2 separate regions of the Homo sapiens genome follow, and region 2 is linked to region 1. Evidence: fine-mapped expression QTL. A gene starts in region 1. The other region holds a variant in brackets. All regions are shown on one strand. Distances are from middle to middle.

Region 1 (2,909 bases):
ATCACTTGAACTCCGTAGGCAGAGGTTGCAGTGGGCCGAGATCACATCACTGCAACTCCAGCCTGGGCGACAAAGCAAGAAGCCACCTCAGGGGGAAAAAAAAGACTAAGGCATTGTACTTATAAAGACTTGCATATACAATCAGTGCTTAATAAATGGTAGCTTTAATTTTTAACATCCCATTTGCCAAGTTAAGAAGCTGATTATTTTGGTATTCCTCAGTTTCCAAGGAAGCTTTTGTCTTCATATTTAGTACTCTATACCCATTCATCCATTATTATTTCATATTTATTTCAGCCCATTGTCCACAGAACACAACCGTTTAGTATATTGCTGTTTGTCCTAGATAAAATCATTAAAATGTTGAGTTCTCCTTTCATTTATAATGCCTTTATTACTATAAAATATAGGTCATCAAGCAGGACTGCATTAAAAGTAATAATCAGTAAAACTGATATAATTCATTCTTCCTGTCTAGTAACTTAAATCTACTGTACTTATGAGTACCACTGGGCTTTATTTTATTATGAAATATGTTAATTTCTTTAAAAAACATTTTCTCATGACACTGCTAAAGCTGAGCTTCTTCTTTGATACTTCTTCGCGAGATTTATGTTGAATCTTCTCTGTTGCACTTTTATAGTCACAGAAATACAACTTTCTCAGGCAGGTCAAGACAGGCCTCCCACCCCTACCCCAGAATAAGGAAAATGAGATGGGAAGGAGAGAGAAGTAAACGCGATCAATCTAATGGAAGACAATTGGCAGCTGCTGTTTTGTTTTGCCCAAGACAGGTGATCTAAATTCCATCTATCTACCACTTTAAATTCACTCTAAGGGGAAAGATAAAAGATTAGGTTAAACAACCCTCACCCACATTTATTTTAAAATGTAACAAAGGCCAGCCATGGCGGTGCATGCCTGTAATCCCAGCTACGCGGGAGGCTGAGGCAGGAGAATCCCTTGAACCCGGGAGGCGGAGGTTGCAGTGAGCCGAGATCACACCGCTGCACTCCTGCCTGGGTGACAGAGCGAGACTCTAAAAGAAAAACGTAGCAAAAGTAGCTTCAAATATTTTTATAAATATTAAAGTAGGAGGCGGAGCAAAACGTGTCTAGTAAAACTACAGAAGGAAAAACCCAGTCTTCCGGCAGATGGAGCGGAAAGGGAAAGAAATCCAATCACCATATTAAAGCAGTTGTCCAGTTTAATTAGTAGTGGGAAGAAGGGAAAAATACAGAAAACAAAGGGCGAAGGAGAAGGAAAAGGGAAGAAGCAAGGGGAAAAGAAATAAAACAAAGGAAATGTCCAATAAAGACCAGGAAGGAAGGTCCGCAGGTGGAGACGTGCGTGAGGGCAGGGAGAGAAGGGTAGGAAGAGGGAACGAGAGCGGCACGAAGGCCTGGGATTAGAGAGCGGTGGGAAAAGGGTAGTGGGCCTGGTGAGGGGAGCAGGAGCCAGGCCGGCAAGGGGCAGGCCATCTTACCGAAGCTGTGATGAATGATTCTCCACCCACCAGGTCTTCCCTTATTGAGGTGGAAGCGGTGGCGACGGCTGGCTGGTCCATGGTGGCCTCCTCTCTCTCTAGGCTGAACCTGAGCTCCGGTTGCTAGGAGGCGGGTGTGGCCCGTGGGCTCCCGAGCGCGCGCGCCTGGGACCGCTCCGGGGGACCCGCCAGGTTTGTCTTTAGTGCTGCAGGGAAGGGAAGCGGGCACGCACTTTGAGGTCCCGCGCGAAGAACTGCGCAGAGGAAAACCCTCGAAAAGAGACGGTTATGAAAGCTTGTGAGAAGAAAATCTAGAGGGCTCTGGAGTTGCTAGAGAGCCCTCGGGTAAGGATCTGCGAAAAGGGAGGCTTGTTAAGGGCTTGAGCGTACCCACAATCTCCATTAGTTCCCTTCCAATCCACCACCAATCGCACACCCCAGACAGGGAGGCAGTGTGCTTGGTAGGCATACTTAAGAGAAATCTGCCTTAGCACCCACTTTCTAAGATTGTTTCTAAGCTCCTCCAAATAGAAACTCTGGGGCTGACTTCTCTTGCTTCTGACTTGCAGAGTGGAGTGAGCACCAGACACAGCCGGTTTCACTAGCTGTGAAACCACAGACCACCCCATTCTTCTCAGTATAGACCCTTTTTATTGTCAGCCTCTCTAGGCTGTAGCTTCTTCTTAACCTAGGAACATTCTCACCTTTAAAAACAAACCCTCCACAACCTTAATTTCATTTTATACAGTACCTACTGTATTCCAGGGACTTCACACACATTAGTCTCATTTAATCTTCATACCAACCCTACAAAGTAGGTATTAGTTTCATTTTCTGGATGAGGAAACAAAGGTTTCCTTGGACGTTTAGCACAGTTCACTCAGCATCACACACAAATGGCAGAACCAGAATTAAAATCCAGACCTGACTCTAGAGCTCCACTGCCCTATACCATGAAGTTTCTGCTTCCCTTTACAAACTTTCAAGAGTAATATGGACTCTTTTCTCACTTCCCATACTTTCCTTAAAACATCTTAATCTGGCCTGCACACAGCTTTTAATTAAAATTGCACCTGAACTCACCAGGGATCCAAGTGCCAAATCCAGTGGGGATTTTCAGCTCTTATGAAACTTGGCCTTCAATTTTCATTGCTGCATTGATTATTCCCTCATTCTTGAATCACTCTCCTCCCTTGACTACCAGGACTTGGACGCTGGTTGCATATAATGACTTATTCTGTGCTTATTTCCTTGTCTATAGAGAAGGGGATAATAAAATTGGTACCTATCCACATAGGTTATAAAAAAGATTAACTCGAACTGTTCACAACCATGTCTGGCACAGTGCAGTCAGTAAATGTGAGCTGTCATTACCTTTAGGACAAAAGCAACATTTACAATCCAGTCTCTCGCTTCTCTCTTT
Region 2 (2,909 bases), 71 kb before region 1:
GTCCTTATATAAGGCAGGCAGGAGGGTCAGAGTCAACAGGGGGAGATGTGATGACGGAAATGAGAGTGGAGCGATCGGAGGAAGGGCTGCAAGGAAAGAAATGCAAGTGGTCTCGAGAAGCAGAAGACAAGGAAGCCAACTCTCAGAGCTTCCAGAAGGAACCAGCCCTGTCAAAATCCTCACTTTGGCCAAATAAGAATGATTTTGGATTTCTGACCTCTAGACCTGTAAGGTAATAAAATTGTGTTGTTTTGAGCAACAAAGTCTGTGGTCATTTGTTACAGCAGCCACAAGAAATTCACACAGAGGGTTGAGTGAATGAGCTACCCCAGCACAGATGGGCACAAGGGCTCAGGGAGGCCTTTGTCAACCTGCGCTTTGGGGTATTCTGCAAGTCCAGCTCCCATGCCCAGCCCAGGAGGGGCTGAGGATTAGAAGCCTGAATAGGCGTGATCCTGCCTGGTATATTTCCAAGTGTCCACTCTGACGCTGTTCAATCGGGAAAGCTCCAGCAACTTCCCTCCTCCTTGATGGCGCTCAGTGACCATGCAGGGCCTTGGAGCCCTGGAACTTCAGAGCAGGGAAGAGGGGGGCAGCGGCCAGCCTTCATCAAGCCCTGCACTCCACCTGTGACCAGCACAGCTCCCAGCACATTGCCTTGCTGTCCCCCACGGCCTCCTCCCAGGCTGCTAGGCTGCAACGGGGTGAGGTGAATAGAATGCTTGTCAGTACCTGCCTCTGCCCCCACTCAGCCCACTCTGGTGACCAAAGACGCAGTGTCATAGCCTGAGTTAACTTCCTGCAGTCACCCTGTCTGCCTACAGTTTTCAGGAACTAAAGCACACTCCCACCAAAGCAGTCACGGTGCTAGCTTGCTCCCATGCTAGTTAGACCCCTTGGAGCCCCTACAACTGTCTAGAAGGATGGCACCTTTTTCTGGGCTCAAATATGGGCAAGGCTGTTGTTAACAAGACAATTGAGGGGTATGTACTGGGAGGCCTTCCCCTACAAGTCCATCCCCAGGAGCCCCTTCTCTTGCCACTCCGTCCTCCCTCCTCCCATCACCCATCTCCTGCTCCTTCCTTCCTCATGCCCCCACCACCTCCCAGCCTCCCATGGTTCCAGCCTTGGCCCCTCCTGCTCTCCAGAGTTGCCTTTTCTCTGAGGAGGCTGCAAATAAGCCCAGCCAGGGTCTGGGGCTTGGGCACTGGCCCCCAAAGCCCACCCAGCCCTGCTAAGAGGAGGGTGGGACGGGCAGGCCATGAGGCCCTGAATCCAGAGCCCAACCCCTTCCCTTTGAGCCTGGCAGGTTCTATGCGCCTGCAGCCCTGCCCTTGGCCAAAACCAAGGGGTCTGTAGGGACCCCAGCCAAGAATCAGACCAGCAAAAGCACATGGGTTCAGGCCCTTGCTTGTCCTTCTACCCAGAACAACTGTCACCTGGTCATGGTCAGGCACTAGCTTTCCCCAGAAAATCATGTAGGAGTGCAGTTGGCCGGCACCCCA[G/C]GGATCAGGAAGCTGAGATCAGCGAGAAGGAGGAGGGTCAGGGGCAAGGAACCCTATCTGGGCAAAAGCCCAGAGCAGGAAGAAGCATCTGCTGGGGGAAACGGAAGCAGCCCAGATGGCCCTGCAGAATCTTCTCCATGGGTTCCACCTCCAGGGGAAGTCTCTGCAGGCCCCCACCCTCTTCCTGCAAGCTGGTATAAACGCTTTCCCCTTATGATTCCGACAGGGTCCTCATTCTCTCCTGGGATGCCAGGGAGCTGCCCTCCACCCCAGTTACACGCACCTCACACGGGCCCCCGCAGCCGTGCCTGCAGCAAAGGTCTGGGCCCTTCTGACCACAGCTCGTGGCCCAGGCGCAGACCCCTGACCCAAGCTGGCCAACTGGATTCTCTCTCCTAGGAATTGGAGACTTGAACCAAGGAGGTGCCGGCTCTATTCTTTTAGAATGTTGACTCAGAAAGTGATATGAGGAGAAGCTGAGGTCGCCGCATTTGATCCTCTACATATAAAGAGGCAGTGAAAGTCAGCCTCCAGAGGGAGAAAAAAGCAGGCCTGAGAGAGGCGGAGGGGAGACCCTGAGGCCTGAGAGAGAGGAGGAAGGTAGACCAAGAGGCCTGAGAGAGGCGGAGGGCAGACCATGAGGCCTGAGAGAGGCGGAGGGCAGACCATGAGGCCTGAGAGAGGCAGAGGGGAGACCATGAGGCCTGAGAGAGGCGGAGGGCAGACCATGAGGCCTGAGAGAGGCAGAGGGGAGACCATGAGGCCTGAGAGGGTGAGAGAGTGAGAGCAAGAACACATACACACACACACACACACACACACACACACAGAGAGAGAGAGACAGAGAGAGAGAGAGACCTGAGAGAGGCAGAGGGGAGACCATGAGGCCTGAGAGACAGGAGGGAGACCATGAGGCCTGAGAGAGGCAGAGGGGAGACCATGAGGCCTGAGAGAGGCAGAGGGGAGACCATGAGGCCTGAGAGAGAGGAGGGAGACCATGAGGCCTGAGAGAGTGAGAGCAAGACACACACACACACACACACAGACACAGAGTGAGAGAGAGAGAGAGAGAGAGAGAGAGAGAGAGAGATGGTTCTTGCCAGCCCCTGGTTTACACTTTTGTCGATGAGATGCCTCTAAATCCTTACAATCTGACCCCCTTCTTCCCCTTGCTAGTTTGAGGGGTTTCTCTAACCTTTCTATCAATGAGCCTTGGCTAAGATACACGTGGCCATCTCCCGCCTCTATCTCATTCTAGAACAGCATCTCAGTGCCAGGTGCTGCCTGAGATGTTGCTTCCTAGAGAAAACACCCTCCATCAGAATGTCCAGCCATTACTTTCGATCATGCAGGGGACTTTAGCCCACTTGGAGAATAAAATTGGAAACTATCTTCCCTGCAGCC

Evidence for each region.
Region 2: its variant is fine-mapped to the expression of STPG4 in whole blood (TOPMed, PIP 0.90).

The regions. Positions count from the first base shown.
Region 1 is chr2:47,153,685-47,156,593 of GRCh38, forward strand. STPG4 (sperm-tail PG-rich repeat containing 4) reads right to left here and starts at 1,624. Exons shown (of 7, transcript NM_001163561.2): 1 at 1,487-1,624. The coding sequence starts at 1,567. RefSeq lists an enhancer at 2,142-2,301.
Region 2 is chr2:47,082,477-47,085,385 of GRCh38, forward strand. No RefSeq gene overlaps it. Among named protein-coding and RNA genes, the nearest start is that of STPG4, 71 kb to the right of the region's middle. The variant G/C (reference allele first, on the strand shown) is at 1,506.